2 separate regions of the Homo sapiens genome follow, and region 2 is linked to region 1. Evidence: fine-mapped expression QTL. A gene starts in region 1. The other region holds a variant in brackets. All regions are shown on one strand. Distances are between the middles of the regions.

Region 1 (8,355 bases):
TGTTTAAGTAGTCTAGGCTAAACTATGGTGTTTGGTATATTAGATGTATTAAATGAATTTTCAACTTTATGATATTTTCAACTTAGCTTGGGTTTACTGGAACATAACCCTATCATAAGTGGGCATGTATATATTTAAAAATACTGATATCACACCGTGATAATTAATGCAAACTTGTTTTGTGGTCATGAGTCTTTGAATTCCTTTGAGTGTATTGGTGGAAATTCTAATAAAAGAATATTCTGCTTTGAATTTTACTTAAATTCATATTTAGTGTATTGCCTTTTTTTTTTTTTTTTTTGAGATGGAGTCTTGCTTTGTCACCTAGGCTAGAGTGCAGTGGCACAATCTCGGCTCACTGCAAGCTCCGCCTCCCGGGTACACACCATTCTCCTGCCTCAGCCTCCTGAATAGCTGGGACTACAGGCACCCGCCACCACACCCGGCTAATTTTTTTTTTTTGTATTTTTAGTAGAGATGGGGTTTCACCGTGTTAGCCAGGATGGTCTCGATCTCCTGACCTCATGATCCACCCACCTCGGCCTCCCAAAGTGCTGGGACTACAGGCGTGAGCCACCGCGCCTGACCCTTTTCTTTTAAAACAAAGTTGTAATACTTAACTAGCTACATAGTATGTACTTTGGGTTAACATAATCAATAATATAGTGTAGGTGGTACATTCAAATCTTTCATTATGTTTCTTCTTAACTTTTAAAATAGGTTGTACTTGATGCCACACTGCTTGGCATACAGTAGTTTCATATGTCTTTGAAGATTATTGGTTTGACTTCAGTTTTCTTTTTTAAAAAAAAGTTAGTTAGATTCTCTATAGCAAGAATAAGACTGAAATAAATAAACCAGCTCTGAAGGAAGAATAAGAAGCAGTAAATACTCTTTGAGTAATAGACGCTATTAAAAATAGCAAAATAACTTTTATTTTCACATTGATGGAGTTGAATACGCATCCCTGCCCAGGGCTGGGAAACTTCAGGACACTGATACTTGTTTTCATTATGAAAGCTAAATTAGCTTTTCTGTGATACACGGTAGAACAACTGCATTGTTCCAAGGCCTTCTTTCACAGATTGCTTCAGGCCTCAAACTCGAGTTAATGGTGACTTGTAGAACAATAGCTCTGACCATTAATAGGGTTGATAATTTCACTTGAGCAAAAATTCATAAGGAGATAGACTATCAGAATATAGGAATTTTGAAAGGCCACAAAAGGTATGACATAGATGCTGGGCACCCCAGAATATGAGAAAGGCTGCCTTGAGCATTTTATTTAATTAAAAAAGTATATAACTTTAGAAAATAAAGTTGCTTACATAAAGTAGATTTATAAACATATACTTATGAGAAAAAAAGTGAAAAAAAATGGAATAATGCCTAAATAATGAACGTCAATAGAAAAAAAAAGTATTTTCTTCCCAAAAGAAGGGAAGAAAAACATCAGTTTAGACAAGAGAAAAGGAAAAAGGAAAATAAAAAACTTCAGAGATACATACAGTCAAGAAAAAGAGAAAAGGAAAAAGGAAAGTAAAAAACTTCAGAGATACATACAGTCAAGAAAAAGAGGCCTTCAGCAAATAAGCTTTCTCTAACTTCAGCCTTAATATAGGCACAAACTGAGATTTAAGAGAAAATTAATGTTCCTTACTTTGAAACTTTTTTTCTGAATCAAAGCCTAAAAATTGAAAATTGAAAATGAGATAGTGTGGGCTGGCATGACGAGTCAGTAACTATAACCTGTGGACCAAATCATACAGTCTATTTTTGTTTGTGTGTGTAAATTAAATTTTATTAGAACACAATCACGATCATTCATTTGCATGCTGTCTTATCTACAGCTTCTTTTATAACACAATGGTTGAGTAGTCGTAACAGAGAACAGACGGCCTGCAAAGCCTAATGTATTTACTATGTGGTAGCTTATAGGAAAAAAACGTACTGACCCCTGGCCGAGAGCATCAGGACACCATTCTTAGAGAAAGTAATCTTCAGTGTGTTCTGAAGTATAGGTTAAAAAATAACACACACACAGAAAACAGATTTATTGAATAATGATTTTATACTTCACGTTGTAATACCTTTCCATATGCTTACAAAAAGTCATGAGATAGGTGCCATTCTCATTTAAGAAATTAGGTAACTGAAGCTCAGGGACATTTAATCTGCAAACCGTAGCACAGTCCATGGCCTGTACACACAGCACACACTGTTGTGGGGGTCGTGTATTACACAAGCATGCCACAGTTTAAGGAGCTGCCATTCATTCACAAATATAATGTATTTATATATTTGTTGCAACAATTATTTGATAGATAGCAATGACATGTATGTTCCAACGAAATCAGTATGACAGTTGGAAGTAAAGCATATTGAGATAGGATGCCTTTATCTTGAATTCACATGAAGATTCCATCTGGGCTACTGATAATAATTCACAATATGATAATATGAAGTTTATTTAATGAATTAGCATATTAGGTTAGAATGAAAAATCAGGTAAAAATGTAAATAAAAGCTTTTAATCAGCAGTGAACCTGATGTGTATTTTTTCAGTTTTCTCCACACTGAAGTGATATCACAGAATTGAGATAAAAATTAACATATTAAAACTAAAGACACCCTATGTTTTGCAACATAAGATTGCTACTGATTCTTAATGGAGACTGCCTTATGCATACCTGGATTCTTGTGGTGCTATTAGAATGGAAATTTTGTAGCAACATTAATAACTGAGAATCTCTGTGACACATGTATCTCACCTAGAGCTGGTTTCCTTTTTATGTTAAATGTGCTGCTTACATTTTAATGTTTAGAATCATACAATTCAGCACTAAATATACAGACCAAATATCTGTAGTAAATAAAACCCTTTGGAGACAGTGTACCTACTTCTAAAAATGAAGCCAACCTTGTCATATTGTTAGCTTTTAAGGTCACTGTATTTTAACACTGTTAGCATTTTCACAAATTCTAATAAAAAAATCCTGGAAATAAGTCTAACTTTTAACACACACACACACACACACACACACACACACACAGAGAGAGAGAGAGACACACACACAGATATAGATATAGATATAGATATAGATATAGATATAGATATAGATATGCATATTACCAAAATAGTTTCTAACTGAATATTTAATAACTTTGCTGTTTCGGAATTGTTTCTTTTCCTTCAGTAAATTTGAAAATACTGTTGTAGTGATAAGAACACATTTAGTAAACAAATGTAAGAATAGATGTGAGAGGTTCTAAATGTAGGTAGAAAGCAGCACAAGTGAAGGAGCATTTATTGAAACTGGGGTATTTCACAGCCGGGTTGATATCGCACCTGAATTTTAGAGAGCAGTTAGGTTTGAAACTGATAAAACGGGAAGAAAGCAAGTAGCTTATCTAGGGCAGAAAACTTCTGGGGAGATAACCAGCTCAGAATTCCCAGCAGGTATTACGGAATGTGAGTCCTGGAGAAGTCAGCAAACGGATGGACAATTGGGAAACTTTCTCTGTGAAGAAACGAAAAACGCTGTGCATAAATAAGATTGGTGAAGATAACTGTGCTGGAAAAGATAAACAAGTGCAGAATATTAGAGCAAAAACTGTGTTAGGGAGTAGGAAAAAGCTGAGAAGACAGCAGTAAAAGCAGGAGGAGTACAAGAGCACATCGTGAGAGAGTGCAGGATTTCCAGGAAGTGTTGACAGTGTCACATGTTCCAGAGGAGAAAAAGAGGAGGAATGGCAAAGGCTGATTGACTTTGTCAGCTACTTACTTTAAAAAACATTTGAGAAAGCCAGAAAGCAGAGGGGAGGAAGCTCCACCGTCATGAGAATGGGAAGCAGAGGCAGCGGCAGCGTGCACAGACATCCTTTGAAGGTTTGTTATAAACACAGAAACTGATGTCTGGGAAAAGGTAAGAGTTCTTAAAATTTTTTTGTTGTTGTTTTTCTGTGTGTATGTGTGTGTGTTTACATTGGGACACAGGTGAAATTTGAACATGCTTATTAGCCAAATTGCCTCAGCAAGATAAAATTAAAGATATAAGAGACTGGGAATAGCTGATGTCAGAAAATACTGAAGATACTGTAGATAAAAACAGCTAAAAAAAACAGTAAGAGCATATTGACCAAAATTTTAAAGAAATATACTTAAGGCCTGGAATAAATACATTTGCACAGTATCTGAAATGACACCTCCTTGAACATAACAGAGAGAAAGAGTTATGGAGATTCTTCCACGTGTTTTTTAATTGCTCAAAGAGTAATTTTTTTCCTTTATACAATTGACTTCCAAAAATACAACAAAACAAAAACAAACAAAACATCCATACAAACGTATGTCAGTAGTAGCTCAGGCACACCCTCTACCATTTAGAAATAGGGTTTCCAAATAACCATCTGATCTTTTCCACACTTTGGTCTGAGATGCTTCTCAGTTTCAACATTTAATCATACTGTAAGTGGGATGGATTTGAGTATTAAAATTTACATTGAATATAGGAACTATTTCAGTTGTGTATGGGGGTGTAGTAATAGAATGAGGAGGTCCTTAGAGAAAACAATATACAAAATCACAGAGGAAAATTAAATTAATCTTATGATAGGTCAAATTTATAATGTAGCAGAATTGTATTTTTATATATTCTGCTTTCATTTTATGATTCACTGGGGCCTGTGAATTATCAGAGTATATAGTACATTTATGTTCATTGAACAGAACACCAAGCATAATTTTATCATTTAAAATTATTGCACAAATTCGTAGTTGTATGTTACTTTCAGACATATTTTCAGTCATGTCTATGATTTATTAAATGCTTGGTCTACCATATAACATCAAATTATAACATTGTTCCTATGAGAAAATATAAAATTTTTATAACAATCTGCTGTACAGTAAGGTTTCTCAGAATACATTGTGGAGACAAATGAGAACTTCCCTATAGCAGTTTTATGAACTATACTTGGCATAGATTTATGGTTTAAGGATAAACTGTCCCTGGTGAATATTTAGTAGCTTATGTAAACCTGATTTTGAAATGTTGAGATACATATTATCTTCTTAACCACAACATTTAAAGCCCTGTTTCAGGACTACCTCTCTGACACAGACTCCACTCTGTGCTCATCTTCTGATTGGTAACAGTTTCATAAAGATGCCCCACCTGCCTTATTCTTTGGACACTTCAATGTATCCTGCATTGCATTTTGACTATACTGCTCTAGCCTTTCTTCAGAATACCACCGATGTTGTATTCTTTATATATGGAGACCAGTTTTGTTAGAGTTAAAGAATGTGCATTACACTGTTTTTAGAAAAGGCAATTCCCCCAGACATACACACACACACACACACACACAATAATAATAATGTGGTGGCACATTAATTAAATCATGGCTGTAGGTGAAATTTATTTAGGAAGAGATAAACCCAAGATTATGCTGAGTTCACAGCACTTACACATACTCTAGAGAAAAGTAAAATCACTAAGCAAAATGATGAACCTGAGTCATGAAGCAAAGGTTTAAGTATGTTCATTACAATGATCACAACAGGATATTAATTTGAATATATTTTTATTTGTTCCCTCTACAGGCATGAAATATTTTGAATATTTTTAAAAGGCTATTACTGTAGTACAGAGTTGTTATATTAATACTATGGTTACATAGAAAATTAAGTTATTTAGAAGACTTCGGGTACAAAACCACATTAGATTACAAGAGTACTATCCTACAAATATTTATATTTAAGATATTTGTCACAACAGAATCTTAAAGTGTGATTCTAATTGTAAAGAAATCTTGTTAGCAAATATCCAAAGATCTAGGTTTAAAATGGAGTGATTGACGGAGAATGAAGATATCATCATAAAACCCTTACACTGCCCTCAATGGATCACTAGAGAAAAAGTTATCATAGCTAGAGTCTGACCTTATGCTGCTATAAAACTGATATATATTTCAAGATAATACTGCTCTCAGTTGGTTTAGCAACCAGATCTTCTTAGCCTTTAGCATTAGAACATTATATGAATAGACATTTAAACCCTCTTAAACATGATATTCAAATTGTTCTATCAGTTGTATCAAATACTTAAATAATGTAGAGGCTACTACATATAATAATATGTTCTGTTACTCTAGAAATTTTTCTAAAGTCTATCACTCCTAAAATAGCATTAATGGAAAATAGCATCCAATGTTTAATAGATGTTTTTCTGAGAGAGGATCCTAGAGAATTTCTATGAAAATGTGTGTTTTAGTACAAGTAATTTTTTTTCTCTCTAGCAGAATCGTTGTAGTTTCTAAATATAAAGGCACTGAAATCAATGAGGGAAACTTATTTACATAGCTATATTAATGCTCTAGATTGGAAATATCAGACTCACTAGCAGTATGTTTATGTTATTTATTCAACAAATATATACCCATTACTGTTCTGAACATTGGAGATACAATGACAAGCAAAAGTGACATGGTTTCTCCTTCACTCAGTATGTAGTTTGTAGGAGTTATGAAGAAAATGAAAAACACAAAATACAGTGAGTTTATTGCTACTTTATGGGTAAGAGAAGAGTAATATTGGGAAAGCAATAGAAAGAGATAACAAACATTAAACTTTTGAAACCTAAAAACAACTATAACCGCAGAGTAAAATGTTAGTGCGGATGGTGGAAAAGAAGGGGTTAATGACAAGGATACCAGAGAAGCAATCAAGGGCTTTGCAAGTCTTAAAGACTTTGGACTTTTTTATTTGGGAAAATTGTGTGCAAAGGCTGTTTGAACCTATCAATCAGAATTAACCAACCTCCTTTTGATGGTGTTGGGGCTTCTTTGGTGTGTTTTTTCATTTGTCTTTTTATGTGTTTTAATGAAGTCTTTATGTTATTATTGCTAAGAATCATGGTAGAAATACGGTGGGCTAGTCATTGGATTTGAATTCAGGAATGTACAGTCCTAATTTCATAACTGATCTTACCTAGATAACGTTTTGGTTGATTAACCTGTAAAAAGAGTTATGCTATGTTCTCTAATTGTAGGAGATTCCGAAAGCAAAATTAACAACACTATTCTTCCAAAGTGCTAATAACTTGGTAAAAGAACAGTATAATAAAGTGAAGATTCACGTAAAGTATTCTATTAAATGATGAATATTGATCAAAGAAAATGTTAGGTGAAAATGTAGCAAGTATGCCATAGAAATCTGTCCCCATCTAACAGAAAAGCAGCACAATTGTAATTTCTGTTGATGTAAAAGCTATAAGATGTTTATTTACTATATGTCTAATGGATCTGTGTTTTGGTTTTCCACTTATTCAATAACCTTTGTCTTTTTTTTAAACGTGCAACATTTTTAGGCATCTATAAATTGTATGCCCCAAAATAGAGAAAATAATTTAATTTTTTAAATAATGCAACAAAACATAACTTTTCTACCATGTCAATATGCATTAATATTTTTCATAAATGTTGAAAATACTTTAATAAAACAATAATTACTTCTGTAATTATATAGAGAAAATATATAGAGATTATTCCTAAAAGAAAAAATTATATCTATTAAATTACACTCTTGTAGTTTATTTAATTGAGTAAATGTGCTACAGAACAATGAGTAGTTGAATAATTGGTAGTCAAAGTTTAATTCTTGTCCAAGCTCTACTTTTTTTTTTTTCTTGAGACGGAGTTTTTCTCTTGTTGCCCAGGCTGGAGTGCAATGGCGCGATCTCGGCTCACCGCAACCTCCGCCACCCAGGTTCAAGCAGTTCTCCTGCCTTTGTCTCCCGAGTAGCTGGGATTACAGGCATGCACCACCACGCCCGGCTAATTTTGTATTTTTAGTAGAGACAGGGTTTCTCCATGTTAAGGCTGTTTTCGAACTCCTGACCTCAGGTGATCCGCCCGCCTCGGCCTCCCAAAGTGCTGGGATTACAAGCGTGAGCCACTGTGCCCAGCCCAAGCTGTACTTTTATTTAAGTATAATTTAGTTAGATATGTGAACTCACTGAAAATGTATACACAATTTTCTGTGTATGTATAAAATTTGATATTTAAATGTATTTATGGCAAGAGTATCTGTAACTTTTATGAACATATCAAGTGGACATGATCACAAAACATGCAATTTATTACCATAGAGCTTCAGAAATACCCCTTCCAAAAAGTATGTATAATGATATGATACTTACAATGGAGGCAACTATGATATTTAACTGTCAGTAAACTGAAAGAAAAAAATGACTCAAAAAGTTTGTAAAGATGATACCTTTCTCTACAAGTTTAGGCAAACACTTCAATTTTTAAACATTTTTTAACCTAATTTTGTTGCTATGGTATTTT
Region 2 (8,355 bases), 330 kb before region 1:
CCTGGTTTAATATTGGGAGATTATATGTTTCTGGGAGTTTATTTCTTCTAGGTTTTCTAGTTTGTATTAGAGCTACTATGTTTTGTTAATTTTTCACATTCATTCTAATGTGTTTAGAGACCACACCCTGGAAGATTTTAATTCTTGTAAAACTTTGGGAGTTCACATTATAGCCTAGGTCTAAAGTTTTTGTTTTCGTTTTTTTCTACAATTAGAAAATCAAACTCATCCCAGTTTTCTATATTTATTAATGTATTTTTGTTTCCAATATATTGCAAAAGGTCATTCATTTGAATTTTACCATGGCAGAATTTTTTAACATGGCAGAATTTTAACATGGCAGAATTTAACACAGCAGAATTTTAACTGTCCTTTCATAAAAGAAACAATAGCTTTACTTTCATGCTTCAGATGGATCCATCTTTCTTTGTTGTGTGTTTGCTTTTCTCACTAGTAATTACTACCTCCGTCGAGGCTGCCAACAAATAATGTTGTCTAAATAAAGCCTATAAAGCTGCCCTAGACTATCATACTCATATTTTTTGTAATTGAGTTTCTCTTTATTAAAGGCTTGGAATGGAATTTGCGAAGAGGAAAAATGTCTTATATTTTGTTTTATTGCAATGTTTCCAATCATTCCAATAAGATTGAAACAACTTTATTCTTTTGACATTTAGGTATTCCTACATTAATAATATCAATGAGCCTTATTAAATATGTTGTGTAGTTATAATGTCTGTCCTTTAGTAAAGCGTTTTCCTTACAGTAGTAAAAGGTAGAGCCATGTCAATGAAATTCTGTGCTCTAATCAGTCATAAGATGATTATCCACAACATTATCCATTTTCTTTCTACTCTTAATGCTGATATTCTGTATTTACTAAACTGCATGGCCAGTGATTCTAGAATCATTAAACAATGATATTTTCTTCATGTCTCTTCATGAAAACTATAATTTTACATAGTCATAAAATACATCTGACTGACAGCAAAATCAGTTTCAGATTACATTAATTGCTGGTCAATGATTTTTCTAGCTAGAGATTATTTTACTCATTAGTCACAAATAGGTATGCAAAACTGGTTCTGAAATTGAGGCAGTAATTAACAGCCTACAAATCAAAAAAAGCCCAGGACCAGATGAATTCTCAGCTGAATTCTACCAGAAATACAAAGAGGAGCTGATACCATTCCTTCTGAAACTATTCAAAACAATTGAAAAGAAGGGACTCCCCTAACTCATTTTATGAGAGCAGCTTCATCCTGATACCAAAACCTGTCAGAGAAACAACAAAAAAATAAAATTTCAGGCCAATATCCCTAATGAATATCGATGCAAAAATCCTCAATAAAATACTGGCAAACCAAATCCAGCAGCACATCAAAAAGCTTATCCACTATGAACCAGTCAGCTTCATCCTTGGGATGCAAGGCTGGTTCAACATATGCAAATCAATAAATGTAATCCATCTCATGTTGCGGGAAGTCAGGGACACTGAATGGAGGGACCCACTGAAGCCATGGCAGCAGAACATAAATTGTGAAGATTTCATGGACATTTATTAGTTCCCCAAGTTAATACTTTTATAATTTCTTATGCCTGTCTTTACTGCAATCTCTGAACATAAATTTTGAGGATTTCATGGACATGTATCACTTCCCCAATCAATATTCTTGTGATTTCCTACGCCTGTCTTTACTTTAATCTCTTAACCCCATCATCTTCTTAAACTGAGGATGTATGTCACCTCAGGAACCTGTGATGACTGCGTTAACTGCACAGATTGTTTTAACAACATGAAATCTGGGAACCTTGAAAAAAGAACATGATAACAGCGACGTTCAGGGAACAAGGGAGATAACCATTAGGTCTGGCTGCCTGAGAGCCGGGTGGAACAGAGCCATATTTCTCTTCTTTCAAAAGCAAATAGGAGAAATATCGCTGAATTCTTTTTCTCAGCGAGAAACAGCCCTGAGAAAGAGAATGCGTTCCTAGGGGTAGGTCTCTGAAATGGCCACTCTGGGAATGTCTGTCTTTTATGGTTGTAGATAAGCGATGAAATAAGCCCTGGTCTCCCATAGCGCTCCCAGGACTATTAGGATGAGGAAATTCCTGCCTAATAAATTTTGGTCAGACCAGTTGTCCGCTCTCAAACCCTGTCTCCTGATAAGATGTTATCAATGACAATGCGTGCACGAAACTTCATTAGCAATTTTAATTTCGCCCTGGTCCTGTGATCTCGCCCTGCCTCTATTTGCCTTGTAATATTTTACTACTTTGTGAAGCATGTGATCTCTATGACCCACACCCTATTTGTACACTCTCTCCCCTTTTGAAAATCACTAATAAAAACTTGCTGATTTTGTGGCTTGGGGGGCATCATGGAACCTGCTGACATATGATGTCTCCCCCAGATACCCAGCTTTAAAATTTCTCTCTTTTGTACTCTTTTCCATTATTTCTCAGACAGGCTGACACTTAGGGAAATAGAAAAGAACTTACGTGAAATAATGTTGAATTATCAGGGGCGGGTTTCCCAATAATCTCATAAACAGAACCAATGACAAAAAGCACATCATTATCTCAATAGATGCAGAAAAGGCTTTTGATAAAATTCAACATTCCTTCATGTTAGAAACTCTCAATATACTAGGAATTGATGGAACATATCTCAAAATAATAAGAGCTATTTATGACAAACACACAACCAACATCATACTGAATGGGCAAAAGCTGGAAGCATTCCCTCTGAAAACTAACACAAGACAAGGATGCTCCTTCTTACCAGTCCTATTCAACCTAGTATTGGAAGTTCTGGCCAGGGCAATCAGGAAAGAGAAAGAAATAAAGCATATTCAAATAGGAAGAGAGAAAGTCTAACTGTCTCTGTTTGTAGATGACAAGATTCTATATTTAGAAAACCCCATCGTGTCAGCCCCAAAACTCCTTAAGCTGTAAGCAATTTCAGCAACCTCTCAGGATACAAAACCAATGTGCAAAAATCATAAGCATTCCTATACACCAACAAAAGACAAGCAAAGAGCCAAATCATGAATGAATTCCCATTCACAATTGCTACAGAGAGAAAAAAATATGTAGGAATACAGCTTACAAGGGATGTGAAGGACCTCTTCAAGGAGAACTACAAGCCACTTCTCAAGGAAACAAGATACGACACAAACAAATGGAAAAACATTTCATTCTCATGGAAAGGAAGAATCAGTAACATGAAAATGGTCATGCTGCCCAAAGTAATTTATAGATTCAATGCAATTCCTATCAAACTACCATTGATATTCTGCACAGAATTAGAAAAACCTGCTTTAAATTTCATACAGAACCAAAAAAGACAACCCTAAGCAAAAGAACAAAGCTGGAGGCATCATACTACTTGACTTCAAACTATACTACAAGGCTACAGTAACCAAACAGCATGGTACTGGTACCAAAACAGATACATAGGCCAATGGACCAGAACAGAGACCTCAGAAATAATACCATACATCTATAAACATCTGATCTTTGACAAAGCTGACAAAAACATGCAATGGGGAAAGGATTTCCTATTTAATAAATGGTACTGGGAAAACTGGCAAGCCATATGCAGAAAACAGAAACTGGACCCCTTCCTTACACCTTATACAAAAATTAACTCAAGGTGGATTAAAGACATAAATGTAAAACCTCAAACTATAAAAATCCTAGAAGAAAATCTATGCAGTACCATTCAGAACATACAGAATATGGGCATACAGAACATTCAGAATATGGGCACATATTTCATGACAAAAATGCCAAAAGCTATTTCAACAATAGCAAACTAGACAAATGGAATCTAATTAAAGAGCTTCTGCACAGAAAAAAAATAAAAAACCATCATCAGAGTGAACAC[G/T]CAAACTACAGAATGGGAGAAAATGTTTGCAATCTACCCATCTGATGAAGGTCTAATATCCAGAATCTACAAGGTACTTAAACAAATTTTTTATAAGAAAGAATCAAACAACCCCATCAAAAAGTAGGCTAAGAATATGAACAGACACTTCTCAAAAGAAGACATTTATGTGGCCAAGAAACATATGAAAAAAATCTCAACATCATTAGTCATTATAGAAATGCAAATCAAAACCACAATGAGATACCATCTCATTCTAGTCAGAATGGCAATCATTAAAAAGTCAAGAAAAAATAGATGCTGAGGAGGCTGTTGAGAAATGGGAATGTTTTTACACTGTTGGTGGGAATATAAATTAATTCAACCATTGTGGAAGACAGTGTGGCAATTCCTCAAAGATTTAGAACCAGAAATACCAATTCACCTAGCAATCCCATTACTAGGTATATACTCAAAGAAATGTAAATCATTCTACCACAAAGACACATGCACATGTATATTTATTGCAGAACTGTTTGCAATAGCAAAGACTTGGAACCAACCAAAATGATTGGTTTATCCAGTGATAGACTGGATAAAGAACATGTGGTACATATACACCATGGAATATTATGCAGCCATAAAAAGATCATGTCCTTTGCAGAAACATGGGTGAAGCTGGAAACCATCATTCTCAGCAAATTAACACAGGAGCAGAAAACCAAACACTGCATGTTCTCACTCACAGGTGGAATTTCAACCATGAGAACACATGGACACAAGGAGGGGAACATCACACATCGGGGCCTGTGGTGGAGGGAGGGGAGGGAGAGCATCAGGACAAATAGCTAATGCATGTGGGGCTTAAAACCTAGATAATGGGTAGTTAGGTGCAGCAAACCACCATGGCACACATATACCTATGTAACAAATGTGCACATTCTGTACATGTATTCCAGAACTTACAGTAAAATAAAACAAAATAAATTAATAAATAAATAAAAATAAAATGTCAAGGAAATAAGCCAAAATAAAATCAATAGCTATGTTAGGATAACAAAAGCCAAAGTTATTCACTTAGTATATACATTGGACCATAAAAAAAAGAAAAACTTGTGTGATCTATCCTTCAGACTGATTTGTTTCGTCATTTTTGTGTATTTTGTTTTTAATTAGTTTGAATGCAATTGGCAGTTTCATTTTTACCACCAATTCCCCCTGCCCCCTTCGCTTTTTTTTTCTTAACAGTTTAATTCTTAATCACCCTCTGCAGGCATGTGAAAGTGAAATCCTGCATTATTGTTTCTCTTATATAAAGTAGTCAAGATTACATGAGAAGTATTGACATTCTTTTTGTAATACCTCTAGTTGAACTTGCACACATTTTGGAACTAAATTGTGTAACTATCCTACTACTTTCGGTTGATAGTAATAGTATATCTACATAATTCTTAAATTCAACTTCATTATCACCTTGGTTCTTAGTATGGTTCTGTATTAATCAGAAATTTTATATTCTCAGTTGTGCTTTGCCTTTGTAGCTTAAACAATACACTATAGTGAGAACTACTTTTAGAGCAAGACTCACAAAGTCCATTTTTTAATGAACAGATAGAAATTCTTACATCAATTTGGATAAAATATATATTTCTAAGAATAATTTACATAAGAACATAAATAATTTAATATTACATCTAAAGCAAGAAATAAAATTGTTATTAATTATGTTAATGAAGCAAGCAAATGTTAAAACTAAGTTCCATCCTCTTATCTGCTGCATATAGATATGGTAGTAAAAAATGCATTTTCTTTGAATTATTTGAACCTTTGTAAATACAAAAAATGAAAAATACCTTAGAAAAGTGTTTAGCATCTGGTAGGTGAAAAATAATATGGCTTTCATAAAATCATAGCAGAAAACCACATAGGGTAAATGTGCCAATATTAAAAGACAATAACATTAGATGCTTATAACCTTAAAGTGCAGTAACAAAATTAACATTTTAATTGAACTCAGAGTTTATTTTGTAGAAAACCATATCAGTAATGCAGAAGAAAATTTTGAGAACATTTCCACAAAGCAGATTCAAAAGACAAGAGAAAAATAAAACACACAAAAATGATGAGACGTGAAAATCTTAAACTGGAAACACACAATGAGAACTTGAAATACTCCTTTCTAATAAATAATAAATACATCTGAAGAAAAATTCTTTGCTTTGCTTAGTAAGTATTGGAGAAATGCTGCATATTCCAGAAGACTTTGGCTCTTTCCCTAGGTCTATTGTGTCAAAAGTACTTAACAATATAGCTTAAAAATTATGCAAACCTGGCTTTACTTATTCCATTATTTATCTGTTTCTATTTTTTAAAATTTTTCCATAAGTTATTGGGGTAAAGGTGATATTTGATTACATAAGTTCTTTAGTGGTGACTTGTGAGATTTTGGGGCACCCATCACCTAAGCAGTATGCACTGCACCCTATCTGTAGTCTTTTATCACTCGCCTCTCCTCCCATCCTTTCCCCACAAGTCCCCAAAGTCCACTGTAACATTCTTATGCCTTTGCATTCTCATAGCTTAGCTCCCACGTATCAGTGAGAACATACAATGTTTAGTTTTCCATTCCTGAGTTACTTCACTTAGAATAATAGTTTCCAATTCATCCAGGTGGATGCAAACGCCCTTAATTGATTCCTTTTTATGGATGAGTAGTATTCCATCATATGTATCTCATCTACATATATATATATATATATATATATATGAGTTTCTTCATCCATCCATTCATTGATTGATGGTCATTTAGGTTGGTTCTGTGTCTGGAATTGGTTCCTCTGGTGGGTTTTTTGTCTCACTGACTTCAAGAATGAAGCCACAGACCCTCACAGTGAGTGTTACAGTTCTTAAAGATGGTGTGTCTGGAGTTTGTTCCTTCAGATGTTCAGATGTGTCCTGAGTTTCTTCCTTCTAGTGGGTTCGTGGTCTTGCTGACTTCAGGAGTGAAGCCACAGACCTTCACAGTGAGTGTTACAGCTCATAAAGGTAGTACGGACCCAGAGTGAGCAGCAGCAAGATTTATTGCGAAGAGTGAAAGAACACAGCTTCCACAGGATGGAAGGGGACCTGGGTGGGTTGCTGCTGCTGGCTCAGGTGGCCAGCTTTTATTCCCTTATTTGGCCCCACCCACATCCTGCTGATTGGTCCATTTTACAGAGAGCTGATTGGTCCATTTTACAGAGTGCTGATTGGTCCGTTTTGACAGAGTGCTGATTGGTGCGTTTACAAGCATTTAGCTAGACACAGAGCGCTGATTGGTGCATTTACAATCCTTTAGCTAGACAGAAAAGTTCTCCAAGTCCTCACCTGACCCAGAAGCCCCGCTGCCTTCACCTCTCAGTTCCATGATTTTGGAATTGCAAGTTGTGCTGCTATAAACATGCATGTACAAGTTTTTTTTTTTTTTTTTGAATAATGACTTCTTTTCCTCTGGGTAGATACCCAGTAGTGGGATTGCTGGATCAAATGGTAGTTCTACTTTTAGTTCTTCAAGGAATCTCCACACAGTTTCCCATAGCAGCTGTACTAGTTTACATTCCCACCAGCAGAGTAGAAGTGTTCCCTGATCACTGCATACACGCCAACATCTACTGGTTTTTCATTTTTTTTTATTATGGCTGTTCTTGGAGGAGTAAAGTGGTATCGTATTGTGGTTTTGATTTGCATTTCCCTGATCATTAGTTATGTTGAACATTTTTTCATGTTTTTTGGTAATTTGTATATCTTCTTTTGAGAATTGTCTATTCATGTCCTTAGCCCACTTTTTGATGAGATTGTTTGTTTTTTTCTTACTGATTTGTTTGAGTTCATTGTAGATTCTGGATATTAGTCCTTTGTCAGATGTGTACATTGTGAAGGTTTTCTCCCACTCTGTGGGTTGTCTATTTACTCTGCTGACCGTGCCTCTTGCCATGCAAAAGCTCTTTAGTTTAATTAAGTCCCAACTGTTTATCTTTGTTTTTATTTCATTTGCTTTTGGGTTCTTGGTCATGAAACCCTTGCCTAAGTCAATGTCTAGAAGGGTTTTTATGTTACCTTCTAGAATTTTTATAGTTTCAGGTCTTAAATTTAAGCCTTTGATCCATGTTGAGTTGATTTTTGTATAAGGTGAGAGAGATGAGGATCTAGTTTCATTCTCCTCCATGTGGCTAGCCAATTATCCCAGCACCATTTGATGAAACTGGTGTCCTTTCCCCCCTTTATGTTTTTGTTTGCTTTGTTGAAGATCAGTTGGCTGTAAGTATTTGGGTTTATTTCTGGGTTCTCTATTTTGTACCATTGACCTATGTGCCTATTTTTATACAAGTACAATGCTATTTTGGTGAGTATGGCCTTATATTCTAGTTTGAAGTCAGGTAGTGTGATTCCTCCAGATTTGTTCTTTTTGCTTAGTTTTGCTTTGGGTATGCAGGCTCTTTTGTGGT

Which allele goes with the higher level. Alleles are on the strand shown, and positions count from the first base shown. SD is a standard deviation of normalised expression in the study named.
For the expression in prefrontal cortex of the gene that starts at base 3,734 in region 1, G is the low allele of the variant in region 2 and T is the other (moderate effect, 0.60 SD a copy in CommonMind).

What was found. PIP is the estimated chance that this variant, and not a neighbour inherited with it, causes the effect.
Region 2: its variant is fine-mapped to the expression of LINC01099 in prefrontal cortex (CommonMind, PIP 0.95).

What each region holds. Positions count from the first base shown.
Region 1 is chr4:177,903,315-177,911,669 of GRCh38, reverse strand. It overlaps LINC01099 (long intergenic non-protein coding RNA 1099), which reads left to right and starts at 3,734. Exons shown (of 2, transcript NR_108092.1): 1 at 3,734-3,926. The region is part of intron 2 of LINC01098 (long intergenic non-protein coding RNA 1098); the gene reads right to left.
Region 2 is chr4:178,230,026-178,238,380 of GRCh38, reverse strand. No RefSeq gene overlaps it. Among named protein-coding and RNA genes, the nearest start is that of LINC01099, 330 kb to the right of the region's middle. The variant G/T (reference allele first, on the strand shown) is at 3,893.